3 separate regions of the Homo sapiens genome follow, and regions 2 and 3 are each linked to region 1. Evidence: fine-mapped expression QTL. A gene starts in region 1. Each other region holds a variant in brackets. All regions are shown on one strand. Distances are from middle to middle.

The links.
Region 2: its variant is fine-mapped to the expression of LIG1 in whole blood (TOPMed, PIP above 0.99).
Region 3: its variant is fine-mapped to the expression of LIG1 in whole blood (TOPMed, PIP above 0.99).

Annotation. Positions count from the first base shown.
Region 1 is chr19:48,167,061-48,172,276 of GRCh38, forward strand. It overlaps LIG1 (DNA ligase 1), which reads right to left and starts at 3,284. Exons shown (of 28, transcript NM_000234.3): 1 at 3,181-3,284. It overlaps ZSWIM9 (zinc finger SWIM-type containing 9), which reads left to right and starts at 3,620. Exons shown (of 4, transcript NM_199341.4): 1 at 3,620-3,654; 2 at 4,734-5,017. The coding sequence starts at 4,743. RefSeq lists silencers at 2,723-2,792, 2,823-2,872, 3,673-3,812 and an enhancer at 2,766-3,425.
Region 2 is chr19:48,117,389-48,122,604 of GRCh38, forward strand. LIG1 (DNA ligase 1) reads right to left here. Exons shown (of 28, transcript NM_000234.3): 24 at 3,782-3,934; 25 at 1,749-1,802; 26 at 250-393. Among named protein-coding and RNA genes, the nearest start is that of PLA2G4C, 9.2 kb to the left of the region's middle. RefSeq lists a silencer at 4,579-4,768. The variant G/A (reference allele first, on the strand shown) is at 2,579.
Region 3 is chr19:48,134,983-48,140,198 of GRCh38, forward strand. It overlaps LIG1 (DNA ligase 1), which reads right to left. Exons shown (of 28, transcript NM_000234.3): 12 at 4,989-5,161; 13 at 2,540-2,706; 14 at 2,026-2,102; 15 at 1,052-1,143; 16 at 698-797. Among named protein-coding and RNA genes, the nearest start is that of LIG1-AS1, 8.3 kb to the right of the region's middle. The variant G/A (reference allele first, on the strand shown) is at 2,663.

The DNA.
Region 1 (5,216 bases):
AGTGGTCTATGAAATTTGACAGGAAAGAAATTACGACTTTATTCTTGTAAACTTCTAATTGGAACTGAGCCTTTCCTTCCATTATAAATATTAAAGATATAAAAAATTATAAATTTTCTATATCTTTAATATTTATAATGGAAGAAAATAAATTACACATTATAATTATGTAATTATAATTATTTACATTATATTTCCTTCCACTATGAATATATTTTTTAAAAAAGGACTAGCAGGACCTCTGCGTGGATTGCTTGAGTTGAGACCAGCTCAGACCAGCCTGGGCAACAGAAATGGTTTTCTTTGACTTTCCCTTCCTTTGCACAGAAATCTTCTTCAACCCATGGGGTCCCCTTTCGTTTTCTGGAATCAGTACTCTCTGTCCCGCACCACACGCCTCTAAGTCTCCACTACTCTCTACAGCCTTGGCCGCCACATGTTGGCACCACAACTCAAACTCAATTTTGGAATCAAAAAACTCAGTAGGCCGGCACTGTGGCTCACGCCTGTACTCCCAGCACTTTGGAAGGCTGAGACAGGCGGATCACGAGGTCAGGAGTTCAAGACCAGCCTGGCCCGCATGGTGAAACCCCATCTCTACTAAAAATGCAAAAAATTAGCCAGGCATGGTGGTGCCAGCCTGTAATCCCAACTACTCAGGAGGCTGAGGCAGGAGAATCACTTGATCCCAGGAGGCAGAGGTTGCAGTGAGCTGAGACTGCACCACTGGACTCCAGCCTGGGCGACAGAGCGAGACCCCGTCTTAAAAAAAAAAAAAAAAAAAAAAAAACAAACAAAAAAGAAACTCAGCAATTTCCAAACAGAGTTTCTCAGGGCCAGTTGGGGAGCAGGAAGTAAGCAATGCTTCAACCAAACAGTTCACACAGAAAGCAGGTTAGGGACTTAGCCACCAAAATCCTGAGGGCAAAGGAGAAAACTATTACGATCCCTCCTGAGTGCTCAACTGCCTAGGTACTTGACATTCTCAATTATACTGACTCTCCACAACAACTCTGTTACAGAAACTAAGGCACAGAGGGGTTTTCAAAGGAACTTAACCTGCATCTATAGTACGTTCCACCCCAGGTCGGCCTGCTCCACAGCTCACCTCTTAACCACCAGACTGAGTTGCAAGGGAAGGAGAAATACATAAGCGTTTACTGGGAAGCCTACTCTATGCCTGACAGGCTGATCACATTCTCAAATACCCTCAATCCTCAAGTCAGCCCTCCAAGACAGGTGAGATCATCCCCACTTTATAGATGAAGGTAATGAGGACAGAGGAACATAGCTGGGGTTCAGGCAAGGCTTCAAAACCCGGTGTGGCTGGCTCCAAAGCCCACGTTCCTTTCTCCTTACCACGGTACTCAAGGCTGGCTTCTCAACTCTGTGTACTGCTGAGTTGGGGGGAACAAACTGGTTGATGCCTCTGGAGGACCACCTGGCGTCTCTATCGGAACGGCAACCCCACTTCTGTGTATTTGGCCCACAGAGACCCTCACAGGTGGACCAAGTGAGGCACAAAGTTACCTGCTGCAGCACTAACTGTAATGAGAGAAGACTGGAAACTGGTGGAATGTCTACCCTTAGGGAACTGGTTCCCTCATTACTGGAATACCATATGGTAGAATATTGTTCAGGGTTAAAATTAAATGAATGATGGATAAAAGGTATAGGAGTTTTTTGGGGGGATGATAAAAATATCCTAAAATCGATTATGGTAATAACTGCACAACTCAGCGCATACACTGAAAACCACTGACTTGTACACTTTAAATGGGCACTTTAAATACACTGAAATACACTTTAAATACACTGAAAACCGCTGACTTGTACATTTTAAATGGGCAAAATTGTACACTTTAAATGGGCAAACTGTATAATTGTGAATTATATCTCAATAAAGCGGTTACCAAAATGAAGAGATAATGACAGGAAAAATATCAAGTAAGGATGAAACAGTACTCAGTAATAAAAAGAAACGAAGCACTGATACAAGCAACAACTTGGGTGGACCTCCAGGGCATTGTGCAGAGTAGAAAAAAGGTAACATCCTAATAATATATGATTCCATTTACATAACAATCTCCGAATGACAAAACTAGAGATGGTGAACACATTAGCGGTTGCCAGGGGCCTGGGGAGGAGTTCTTATGTGGAGAGGGAACTGTTCTATATCACAATTACGATGGGGGTTACACAAATCTATACAAGGAATCAAGCTGCACGGGCACACAGATGCACAATCACACTCACACCACACAAACTGGTGAAAACTGAACAAGGTCTGTAATCTAGTTAACAGAACTGTATTGATGTCAATTTCCTGGTTTCGATATTGGGACTACATAAGATGTCACCATTAGGGGAAGATGGATATACTCTTTTCACAACTTCCTTGAATCTATAATTATTTCAAAATAAAAAGTAAAAACAAGAGGTAAGCTCCATCCCTTTATCAAGCATACATTAGGCCAGACGTCTCCCCATTCAGATGATTCTCCATCTTTTACGAGCCCTTTACCTAGACCTGGACCTTACCACTGACCTCTCCCTGACACCACCCATCTCCCTCCAGTAGGGCCCACTCCTTCCAGGTGATGCTGCTGCCCGCGATTTACCTTCTTCTAGCCCCGCCCCCTCAGCACTTCCAGGTGGCCCCCGCCCCCTCAGCACTTCCGGTTCCCAGCCAGCCCCACCCTTGGCACCTCCCCCTTCCAGGTGGCCCCGCCCACACGCAATCTTTTCCCCGGCCCCGCCCCTTAGCTCCCTTCAGCCCCTCCCCCTCCCAGATAGCCCCGCCCCCTCGGGGGGCCTTCCGATTTCCAGCTGGCCCCGCCCACACAGTTTTCCCCCCCCCGGCCCCGCCCCTCAGTTCCATTTGGCCTCTCCCCTTTCCAGGTGAACTCGCACCTCAAGGCCTCTTCTCAGAGGACCTGTCCAACTGTCTCTGTCTCTCGTCTACCCTCTACCTGGCCCCCCTCCCTCTGGGAGACACCTCTCTGCACTCTCCGGCGGCCCGCAGCCCGCGCTCTTCCGTCTCCACCGCGCTCTCGGCAGCCTCAGCGTCCCCACGCCCACTCCTCTGCAGACACCCCGACATGGCGAAGCATAGGCCCCAAGCATTCGGCGCACCCGCCGCCCTCCGCCTCCCATCTGCTTGCGGACGGCCCCACTTGCCTTGCGTTGGTCCCGCGCGCCGCTGCCCGGGCAACACACTCAGATCCGCCAGGCGCGCCTCTGCAGTCCCAAGTTCGCGCCACGGCATTCGCGCGCAGACGTCTGCGGGCGGGGGCGGGGCAGAGCCTAGGGGCGGGACCTGGGCACCGTCCGCACCGCCGCCGTCGCGCGGAGGACACTGGGAGTCGTAGTCTCCCGAATGGGAGGAGGGCGGGAAAAGGGGTGAAGTGGGGCGAGCCCTCCCGCAGAGCACACTGGGAAAATGCCCGCGCTTTCCCTCGCCCTGGATGAGCGGGTGTGGCTGAGGGTCTGAGGAGTGACTGGCAGGGAAAGAGGAGGAATCGGTGGAAGCGCCCCCGCGAGGCACGGCGGGAAGAGAGGCGGGAGACCGCGCGGGGCATCCCGGGAGCAAGGGCCGGGCCAGGCCTGGGCGCGGGGCATTGTGGGAGGTGGACGCCGCTCCGGGGCGGGTAGGTGAGTGGGGAGGGGCGGGAAGGGTGCACATCTTGGGGAGGGGAGAGGCACAGCTAGGTGGGACGGCGGGGCTGGAAGGTGCCGCAGCGGGCGGGGAGGGGGGGAGTAGGAGGGTCGGGAGCGGGCTGGATGGGGCTGCTCGAGGGGAGACGCGCAGCTGGACGTGGGGGGAGCATCTGGGGTGAAGGAGCCCATCCGAGGACGAGGGGCCATGTCTAGAACGAAGATGCATATTGCGGGGGATGGTGGATGTAACTGGGAGGAGGGGCCCACAGCTGGACTGGGGGCCGCATCTGAGGAGGAGGGGACCACAGGTGAATACTGGTGACACTTCCGAGGAGAACTAGCCACAAGTGGGGCACACACCTGTAGGCGAAGCGTGGATAACTGCATGTGGGGAGTACATCTGGAGATGAGAGTGTCTCAGGGAAGCCCCAGCTACAGCTGCATGTGGCGAGCCATAGGGTCATAATCGGGGGAAGGGGCAACAGCTGCACGCCAGAGGCACATCTGGGGAGTGCGGAGCCACAGGTGCATGAAGCATGTGACCGGGTGAGGGGTCCGTGGCCTGGATGTGGGAGCACATCTGGAGATGGAGCGTCTTTGGAGGGGTTACAGCCAACTGTTGGCACATGGAAGGAGGAGTTCCAGATGAATACGAGAGTTAGAAGTTACTCTTGGGTGAGAGACACAGCTGGAAGGGGAGGAGGTTTTAGCTGGAATTTGAGAACACATTTGAGGAGATGTCCTTAAGGGACATCTGAGCTTAAGGGTCGTATTTTGGGAGGAGAGATTCCAACTGTACCTAAGGGTCACATCTGCGGAGGAGGAGACGAGTTGGAATTAGGAATCAAGATGACAGGCTCCAAGTGAACCAGGGATAAGGCGGTGGGAGGAGGCCAAAGATAGGATGGAGGTTGATATTTATATATTTGGAGAAAAACAGGCACGTCCGACCCCGGGCTACCCACCTCGATAGAGGCACCAGCAACCGACGGGGCAGGCCAAGAATGGAGTAGATGAGATACCCCGGGTGGGAATGGGTCTGATATCCACCTGTTCTCCCCTCCTCCACGCAGGCCCCCAGGATGGAGCGGCCGGAGCCCCCACCCGGCACGGCTGCGGGGCAGGAGGAGCAGGAGCTGCGGGAGCGGGCCTTCTTCTCGTGGGCCGAGTTCAGCCGCTTCTTCGACGCGTGGTGCCAGCAGCGGCTGGCGCTCTTCTTCGTCAAGAGCTCCATGCACCTGGCGCGCTGCCGCTGGGCCAGTGCGCCCCCGCTCTACACGCTCATCGACGTGCTCAAGTACAGCTACGTGCGGCTTGTGTGCAAGGACGTGCGTGCGCCCAGCCGGCCCGCCGTGGGGTGCGTGAACCTGAGCCGCTGTCCTGCTGGGGGGAAGGGGAGCACCGGGGGTGGGTGTGGGTGGGAGACGGGCAGAGAACACCCCACCCAGAGATGCAGAGGGGGAGAGGCCAACTGAGGCAGCCAAATACACCTTGCAGAGAGGCGGGAGTCAAGGAGGGACATGTACTGAGAGAAGAAGAGGAGCTAGAGAGACAAA
Region 2 (5,216 bases), 50 kb before region 1:
ACCTCAAGTGATCTGCCTGCCTCGGTCTCCCAAAGTGCTGGGATTACAGGCACGAGCCCCCATGCCCGGCCCATTTTTAAAGAAAAAATGTTTTGATCTTTTTATCTGACACTCAAATAAAATGCAAGCTCATCTTCCTGATCCTTACCTGGAAGAGCAGATGTGAGCCAAGGTCCCCTCCCTACTCTGCTCTCTGTGTGCCCGCCCAGAATCCCACACAGGGCCACGGCCAGGTCCTCTGCCACTCACCAGGCCCCGCGCAGCAGGGTAGATGGGAGAGAGGGAGAGGTCAGCGCACTTCACCTCCCACACAGCGCTGGGGTCCAGCCAGTGGTCGGGAATCACAGCGCCATCTATCCGCACGTAAGGGCGTGGGCTGGGCAGCACCAGCGCCTGCAGTGAGCAGAGGAAGAGAGGAACAGAGGGTCTGGAATCTCAAAGTCAAGGCCAAGTGTTGGAGGGCTGGGGAGAGGGAGGAAGGGAAAAAAACAGGCACCCCCTTGAAGTAAACAGAAATAGGAAGTGAAATAAGGGAAAAGAAACAAGACACCCCCTTGAAGTAAACAGAAATAGAAAGAGAAACAGAAAGTGAAAGAAGGGAAAAGAAACAAGACCCCCTTGAAGTAAAAAGTTGAGAAAGGTGGGAGTTGGGAGGAATGGGAGATGGAAAGAAATGAAAGGCCCTGGGGGCTGAGGCAGGACATTAAAGACAAAAAGAGGCAGAGAAAGGGCCAGAGACCTGGAGGAAGGAGACAGAGACACAGTGGGACAGGGACAGAGATGTAGAGAGAGAGGGCAATGGAGAGAGAGAACCAAAGAGTGGGACAGAGATGGTGTCAGGGTCCGTGTGTCCCCACCCACATCTTGTCTTGAATCATAGCTCCCAAAATCCCCATGTGTCGTGGAGGGACCTGGTGGGAGGTAACTGAACGATGGGGGCAGGTTTTTCCCGTGCTGTTCTCGTGATAGTGAGGAAGTCTCACGAGATCTGACGGCTTTATAAAGGGCAGTTCCCCTGCACACGCTCTCTTGCCTGGCGCCATGTAAGATGTGCCTTTGCTCCTCTTTCGCCTTCTGCCATGACTGTGAGGCCTCCCCAGCCGTGTGGAACTGTGAGTCCAGGAAACCTCTCTTTATAAATGATCCTTTTTTTTTTTTTTTTTTTTTTGAGACAGAGTCTCACTCTGTTTCCCAGGCTGGAGTGCAATGGCATGATTTCAGCTCACTGCAACCTCTGCATCCTGGGTTCAAGCAATTCTTCTGCCTCAGCCTCCCAAGTAGCTGGGACCACAGGCATGCGCCACCACGCCCGGCAAGTCTTGGGTTATTTCTTCATAGCAGTATGAGTATGAAAATAAACTAATACAGATCCAATATGTAGGACAGACACTCATGCCTGAAATGCCTGTGACCATGACAACATTCATTCACATTGATCAGGGCTCACAGGCACTTCACAAGGAGCAGCTATGGCACCTGCTGTGTCCTTTGGCTAACCCCTGGTGTGAATGAGGCACAGGGCTTGGGGAGGTGAGGCTGCTTGAGCAGGGTCACCAGCTAGTAGCCGGCAGTGCTGAGACATGAACCTGGAGATGCTGGACTCCAAAGCCAGCTCCACTGCCTGCTGCCCTCCTGCCCACACCTGGAGCCCCAAGATGGTGGAAGCCAAGAGCCCTGCATGGAAGGACTGTGCTGTCAGGGGCAGGGGGGAGAGGGGTGGAGGCTGAGGCGCAGCCGCCATGGCTCACCTTGAGGCTCTGGTGATGCTCCTCCAGCTCCTCATCACTGAAGCCAGTTCCAAGCTGCAGGGAGGAAGCGGGAGGTCAGAGGCTCAGCCAGCCACAGGCCCAGCACTTGCTCCTGCCATCTAAAGCTGTGTACACTCATGGCCCCCACCCCACTCTGGTCTACGCAGTATCCACAGAAAACCAGGGAAGTAGGGAGCTGGGGGTGCGGAGCATCCATCCAGAGACTCCCGGGTGGGAATGTTCTCCCAGCAGGCCTGCCGTGAACCACTCCCTGTCTTCTGCTTTATGGAGAAACTCTTGCTGCTTCCACTGTCTCCCTGGCCCCAGGAAGTCACTCCCTTATGCTCACCCACATCCTCACTGCCCAGTAACTGGCTGTCCTCACTTCCAGTCTTTTTTTTTTTTTTTTTTTTTTTTTTTGAGACAGGGTGTAGCTCTGTTATCCAGGCTGGAGTGCAGTGGTGCAATCTTGGCTCACTGCAACCTCCACCTCCTGGGCTCAAGCAATCCTCCTGCCTCAGCCTCCCAAGTAGCTGGGACCACAGGCATGCACCACCACGCCTGGCTAATTTTTTAAAAAAGTTTTTGTAGAGGTGGGGTCTCACTATGTTGCCCAGGCTGGTCCCGAACTCCTGGGCTCAAGTGATCCTCCCACCTCAGCCTCCCAAAGTGCTGGGATTACAGGCGTGAGTGGCCATGCCCAGCCCATCTCCAATGTTAACACTGCCAAGAGCTTCTTTCACCTACCAAAATAGGAAAGGCTAAAAATTAGCAGTAATGCTGGATGCTGGCAGATACGCAGCAAGTGGGCAATAATCACCAATATAAAC[G/A]TCACCTGGAAAGCCCCTTTTGCATTGAGAGTCTTAAGGATTCTTTTTGCCTTTTGTCCTGACAATAGCTCATTTAAAAATCTATTCTAAATAATGCAAAATGGTGACAATGTAGATTGGTGGCCAAAACATTTGTGATTTATAAAAGTCACTTCTGTCACTGATCGTTTAGGTTAACGGACACTAAGTAATCACATTACCCATCAGAACAAAGCCGGCAACAACTTCCCCACACAGCCACGGGGAGCTGGTTCAGGACACAGCACTATGTGCTATGGGGCACAGCACTTGAAAACTCTTGTGCGGGCATTCAGGTCCTGTTGCCATATTGCTTAAGGGCATATACAACACTGAAAACAAAGTACTTCCAGGGTAAAAAGGCAGAAAAGAAAATTACTCATAGAGAAGGATCACAACTTTGCAAAAATGTAAATAAAACATTCCCTCAAATGTCACTACTGCGTGTCTCTGGGTGGTACGATTCTAGGTGATATTTTGTTCTGTTTCTGTGGCAAAAGACCCAAATTTGTTGGAGAGGGGAATATAGGAAATACGTAAGAAAATCTAGTCCAAAATGTGCACAGCTTTAAGAAAAACTTTAACTTGAAAAAAAGTAAATCACTTTACATTTCCCAGAATTCCTTGCAGCTAGGGGTGAGCCATGGAGCAAAGTGATGAGCAACAGAACTTGAGCAGAAGGTGTTCACTGGCTGAGGCTGACTCAGGGTCCAACCCCCTTTGCTCTTCCCTGGTGCGTGGAGCAGGCATGGCCATGAGGGCTGGAACTCCTGCAGCCACATTGTGATGATGAGGCCAGAGGCACATGGCAGAAAAAAAAAATGTGGGGACAAAAAAAAATGTGGGGAGAGGAGGAACCTGAATCCCTAATGGCATCAGACTGCCCCCTCCACACTTCTCATTTCATAACAAAAAAATTCTTTTCTTATGTGAGCCACCACTATTTGTAGCTAATCTCAATCTCTCACTGACACACATTCCTGACATCTTTCTATCCCAGCCTGTTTTTCTATATGAAGCAAGAGTTGCTCATAGAACCAGAAAAAGTAAATAAAAACTGGGGAGAACGGATCCTTCACAGGGGGATGTGAGCACCCCTCGGTCTGGGTTGTGCAATAGGAAATACCCCCGGGAGTCTAATCTCCTTCCCTCCTGCTTCTGCCATCAGCCCCAGTTCCCCAGGACCTTGCATATGGCCTGCAGCTCCTCACTGTCCTCGTCGTAGGAGGCCAGCAGGAAGCCCCCGTACCGGCCGGCCCGCTTCCCCCGGCCCAGGTAGGCGCCGATCACCACCAGGTCCAGGGTGTCACCCACGCCATCAAGGTAGTCCTTCTTCAGCTGGGAGAAGGGGAGGCAAGAGATGAGAAGGGGGAGCGCCCAAGGCGGGGCCCTCACTGCTGGGGAGGGGCTCCTCAGTGGACTGAGGAGGGACTAGAAGTAAGTCTGAAGGGAACTTCCAGAAGGAACCCCAAGGATGGCCCCTGGGAAGAGACTGGACATGGGAAGGGTTTCTAGGTTTAAATAAGAACAAATGGGGCCGGGCACGGTGGCTCATGCCTGTAATCCCAGCATTTTGGGAGGCCGAGGCGGGTGGATCACCTGAGGTCGGGAGTTCGAGACCAGTCTGACCAACATGGAGAAACCCCGTCTCTATTAAAAATACAAAATTAGCCGGGCGTGGTGGCGTGTGCCTGTAATCCCAGCTACTTGGGAGGCTGAGGCAGGGGAATCGCTTGAACCCGGGAGGCGGAGGTTGCAGTGAGCCAAGATCGTGCCATTGCACTCCAGCCTGGGCAATGAGAGTGAAACTCCGTCTTAAAATAAATAAATAAATAAATAAGAACAAATGGGAAACGCAGGCGGGATCGATGGGACCTCAGGAGTCAGCCTTGCCGCCGTCTTTCCCTCAGGACAGAGACGTGGCCAACTCACTCTGGCCACTCCTCCAAAGGGAGAGCATTTTCCCATTCGTTCAGAAACGTTCACTAAGTGCTAACCATGTGCCAGGCAGAAGCTCAGCCCTGGGGGCACAACAGTGCTATTTCCTGAGACAGGAAAGGTCTGTGCTGGAGGGAAACCAGCCACAGACAGACATAAGTACACAGGAAGAGCTAGTCAGCAGGCCTGGCCGGCTCAGTGCCACAATGCCTCCCGCTCCAGTCCCCTTGTCCACCCCTCACTGCCCCTCTCCACTCAAACATCCATCAACTCTTACTGATGACAGGCTCCTGCTCGCTGGCCCTCAACACACCCGTCCTCCACTCGAGGGGAAACCCCAGGAGCTTCGCACAATGACAACCTGTGACTCCCGGCACGGAACCCCCACTGACTTCCTGAAACCTTCAAGAGGAAGATCCAGTTTTATCTCACAGTGGCCCCAGGTGCTGCCTCATCTGGGGCCTGCTCCCCACTCTGAGCTCACCTCCCGCCTCGCCTGCCCTTGCTCCCTGCACACGCAGAGGCTGCTCCTCCCTCAGGGTCTCTGCACCGGGGGTTTTCCTCCCTAGTGCTCTGTCCCTCACTTTGGGAAAGACTCTTCCTGATCATCCGGGGCACTCCCAGCCCCGCCTTGCTGGCCCGGAGCTGACTTGCTTTTCTTCATGGCGCCCACTCCTGCCTG
Region 3 (5,216 bases), 32 kb before region 1:
GCCCTCGTGGCCGCTCCACGGATGTCCTCTCCATGACTGTCAAGACCCTTCACCATGTGTCAGTCACCTGCTCCTCTCTGGGTCCCTTAAGGCCTTTCTGCATGCACAGCCCTGTCTGGCACTCAGAAACCTCATGTTGCCGGCTGCCCTCCCTTGCTGTCAGCGTCTTTCTTTTTTTTAAGACAGTCTCACTCTGTTGCCCAGGCTGGAACGCAGTGGCGTGATCTCAGCTCACTGCAGCCTCCAACTCCTGGGTTCAAATGATTCTTGTGCCTCAGTTTCCCAAGTAGCTGGGATTACAGGCTAATTTTTGTATTTTTAGTAGAGACAGGGTTTCACCATGTTGGCCAGGCTGGTCTCAAACTCCTGACCTCAAGTGATCTGCCTGCTTCAGGCTCCCAAGTGCTGGGATTACAGGCGTGAGCCACTGTGCCTGGCCGCTGCCAGCGTCTTTCTATACCTCTCCTGGGGTCACTGACCCTTCACTGTTTGCCACCTTCCTGATCTTTGTCACCATCCTTGTGTCAAGCACCAGCCTTGTCTAGATCACCACCTCTGCTCTCAGTCACCCCGTGACCGGCACTCGTGATGCCTGTCCGTCACTTCACTGGCCCCACCCACTGCTCCTCTGGCTCCACCCCCACCCTGGCACTCTGCCCACAGCCCCTGGCAACTCCACCCACTGCCCAGCTCTCACCAGAACGTCTGCTTCAGGATCATGCCTTGCTCCTCCAGCCACGTCTTTCTGGCCTCTGCTGTCTTGCCCTTCCCAGCATCCACCATGGCTGGTGGGAATTCTAAGAAAAGACCCACCAGAGGCTTTGGAAGGCACCCACATCCTTGGCTACACCAGGGTGCAGTGGGTGGTTTGCTGTATGGCAAGGAATGCAGATGCCGCGGCCCAAGACGCCCCCTCCCCCCCACCCAGGAGAGAGGAGCCTGGTATGGCAGGGGCCCGCTGGGGAAGGGGCGGGCATGGGCCTCTGAAGAGGAGGGGGGAAGCCTGAGGTAACTCCAGCGAGGGATGCAGAGACGGGCCACAGGAGCTCACCTTGGCCCGGGGGCGTGAGGCTCACTGCCTGGGAGAGGGCAGCCAGCACCGACTGCTCTGCCAGCCCAAGGCGCAGCCGTCCGCTCAGGGACCTGGGGAGAGAGCAGGCCAGGGAAGGGGGCTTGTCTGCACCTCCCCAATCTTGCCTCCTCCCTTCTCTGATCTCCTCGACCTTGATGTATGTAGACCCTCTCCTCAAAAACCAGAAGAATCTTCAGAGCCTGGAAGGGACCCCAGATATCACACAGCCCCATGTGACAGATGAGGAAACTGAGCCAGGCAGTAATGATCCTGCCCACTAGCATAGACTGGGGAGGGGCACAAGTAGGTGCACCAGCACCTCCCATCTCAGCTGCCCTGAGGGGTTGGCGAGGCTTGAGGAGGATGAGTCAGGGAGAGAACTGAGCCTGGCGCCCGCCCTGGTGACTGTAATGGTCAGGACCCCAGCATGGTCCTTGCTTTGAGCCAGTGGCAGGAGACAAGTGGCTTAGTTTGCCTCCCCATGTCTCCATTTCCCCTTCTATAAACTGGAGGTGAGGGTAACAAGACCAGTCTCACAGAGTTGCTGGTAGGAACTGATGAGGTAAGGCACGGGGCACAGGGCAGGGCTCCCAAGAAATGCTCCATGATGTGAGCCCTCAATGGATTTGCTCTCACTGTCATGGCAAACAAACCCTGGCTTCCTGCTGCAGGGCCCGCGCCCAAGCCGAGGCAGACCTCACCAATCAATCACAGCATGCTTCACCCACAGGGGCCCAGGGGCCTTCTCTAGACAGCACTACCAAGGGACAGAAGCTGGCCTGTGAAAGGAAATGGTGTCCCTTCCCACTCTTTAGGGGCTGGGCCTCCTGCTCATGCTTTTCTCATCCAAGGATGGTCAGGGCATTTGTGATGATTCCAGCTGCCAGTCCCTCCCTCCTTTCACCTCCGAGCCTGCAGTCCCCCTCTGTAGCCTCACAGGCCCACACGCTTACCTAGCGATGAACCGGGCTTCTGAGTGGCGGCAGGCCACAAAGAGGCCTTTGATGATGTCTATCTTCTTGGCTGTGGACTGGAGAGTCAGGGGAAGAGCCGTCAGTGCCTGGTGAAGGCAGGGACCACACCTCCACCCCACCAGCCGTGCTGCTGCCCTGCATTTTGGAATACCTGCCCTCCTTCCCTCACCCCATCCCCATGTCCCAGCTCCCATGGCCGCCCACTCTTAGGGCAGTAAGAACGAGCTAGCTCTCCTCCTTGCCTCCCTCTCCCTTTATCCAGGAAGTATTTACTGAGTCCTGTCATGTGGCAGCCATGGCATTAGGTCTGCTAGACTCTGAAGAGGAGACTCCCCTAGGATTGGGTGCAGGAAGGAGGAGAGGAAGCTGTGCACCCCATGAGAAGGACTGATGCGACCCAGCTGATGGTCTACCCAGAAGCCTTCCTGACACACGCGTGGCCTCAGGTCCCCAAGATGTCTGGGGTCCGGGATGAGCGGCCCGCCCCACTCACAGCACTGCCAGTGAGCCTGGCGATGTCGCGGAACTTGCTGAAGACCCCGGAGGCAGTGAGCGGAGGTGGTGGCAGCATGAGCCTCTGGGTGCTGCGGCTGTTCTCGGCCACCAGCCCCACGTC[G/A]CCTTTCTCGGCTGCCTCAGCCCGGACGGACTCCAGCTGCCGACCTTCAGGGGAGAGCGCGGGTGGGGGTGTCGAGGGTGACAGTTGTGGCTGCGTGTCTCCCTTCTCTCGCGGCCTGGATGAATTTTCTCCAGCTGTGTGTGCTTGTGGCGAGTCCCTGCACCTCCCTGTGTCTAACGCTCACCCACTTGGTAGAAATGGCTTGGGGAACGTGCCCCCAGCCACGCTGGCTGTAGGAAGTCAGCAAACATGCACGTGGAGCCAGGAAAGCGGTGGATGAACGAGCATGACCACACTCAGGGGAGACATCTGGGCCGGTGTCATCAGGGCGCGGATGGGATTTAAAGCCACAGGCGGGACAAGGTCACTAGGGAAGTGAGTGTGGACAGAGCAGAGAAGGCCAAGGGACCCTTTCCTCTGGCGGGTCATGAACATCTCTGGCAGTGACCAAAGACCCTTCGGCTTGTTTTGGAGCCACCAGCTTACACACGTGGGATGTGCTCTGGCCCCACTTACTGTCCAGAGCTGGGTCCCATGGGCGCCTGGGTGTAAGAGCTGGGGAGATGGAGCCTCAAGTCACGGTGACAGCTGTGACAAGCAGCTCTCAACCTATCAGAACCAACACACCCTTGTCACCAGATACTGTGTGTCACCTCTTTTCTGGTCTGAAATAAAATGTGGAGATAACATAACCTGCCTACACCTATCGAGATAACGCCCTAACCCTAACACAGAAAAGAATGAAAGGGAAAGCAATCCGTAATGAACGAACAAGTGCGCGTTTCAGTCCACAGATGCTCAGCCGCGGCACAGAGCACATGAAGGTGGGCCTCGCGCCTGAAGCGAAACTGCCACAAATGGGAGAGCCGACAGTGTGAGCCTCACCAATGGGATGTTATCGAATCACACATCAAAGGGGACGGGATTCTCCAAAGTGGCCAACAACTCACAACAAACCCGGGACTTGGACAGCCACGGGGGCCACAAGGCGGCACGGAGAGCAGTGTGAGTGTGAACACGACCCATCAAGGGTGGAGGCATGAGACAGTGGAAGAGGCCCCAGCTGCCATGGATTGTTGGGCAGGAAAGCCAGCATCTGCAACTTCTTTTGTGAGAAAAACAGATCCTTCTTTGTCCAAGCCAATGTAGTTGGGTTTTCTGTTACCTGCAGCTCAGAGTATTCTTAACCGACCCCGTGTGTGCTGGGTCTGGTATGACGTCAGTGCTCCCGAAACACATCTTGAGTGAATGAGTGAGAAAATCTTGAGTCTCATCTCCTCTGGCTCCCATAAGCCCGTAACTCTTTCCTGATCCAAGTCAACCTTTCTCAGTCCCTCTGTCCTCTCATGAAAGCCTGAAACCCCTGCCTTCCCTAAATGTTGGTGCCCATGGCCCTAAGCCAGCTCCAGTGCTCCCAGCACATCCTCTCCCCAGGCGGATGAGAACCCACCAGTGGGTGGTCATCCCTCCTACACTGACCAGCCCGAACCCTGGGCTCTGAGCCAGACCTGGTGAGCCTCAGACCCGTTTCCAAACTTCCTGGATGGCCCTGGGGGCCCACAGATAGAGGTTGCTCATGCCTGCCCCACGCTGGGGTGATTAATGCCCCCTGCAGGTGCCTGCCCCTCACCAGGGTCCCAAGCTGCCGACGGCTTTGTCATCCATCCAGTCACCCAGGGAGATCCTGGAGGCATTCCTCCTGCCTCCTCACCCTGACATCCACTGTCTGCCAGATCTCTCCTGCCCTCTTCTCTCTTCTCTACAGCTGGGGTCCAGCTCCTCTTCCCCCTGGATGCTGCCCCTTGCCTGCTCACAATCCTTCCATGGCTCCCCAGTGTCCTCATGATAAGCACCGAGCACTCCAGGCCCTTGGCAGGCGGGCCATCCGCATCACCAGCCTTTCCACCCAGCACTGGCGGCTGGGCCCCTTCAGGCTGCTGGCCCCCCACACACCATGTTCTTTCCTCCCACTCCTTCCAATCCCTCCAGTCAAAGTCCTTTCAGACCTCTCTAAGCCCCAACCTTCCATCTCAGCCCCCAAATCCTGCTGTCTCTGCCTCCAGCATCTTTCCCCAGCCCTCCCCTTCCCTGCACCCCACACCCCCTGTCCCAGCACATGCCTGGTCCTCCCTCACCTGAACTGCTGCCCCTGTGTTCTCTCCCACACCCCTGCAAATCTGTCCCCATCAGGCTCTCCTCCCTCTCAGCCTTCTCCTCAACCCTGTTTCACAGCCTCTCTCCACCATCTCTCCGATCCACCTGACCTCTGCATTTTCTCTGGCTGAGCTCCTGTCCTTCTGGTCCCTCCAACCACAGTCCCCCTTACCTGTGGCCTGGGCCACTGCCTTGAGAAGGACACCATCACCCACGCCAAGCTCCAGGCCCTGCTGGGGTGGCCCAAGGTGGTTGAGGCTGAGGTAGAGGACAGGGAGGAGGTCTGGAGGCGACAGGGCCACCACGGAGCGCAGCAAGTTGCTCAGCGTCTCCACCATCCGGAGCCTGGAGGAGGGGACGGGGGTATGAACACGTGGTTCCTCAAGGTCAAAGTGTGGTG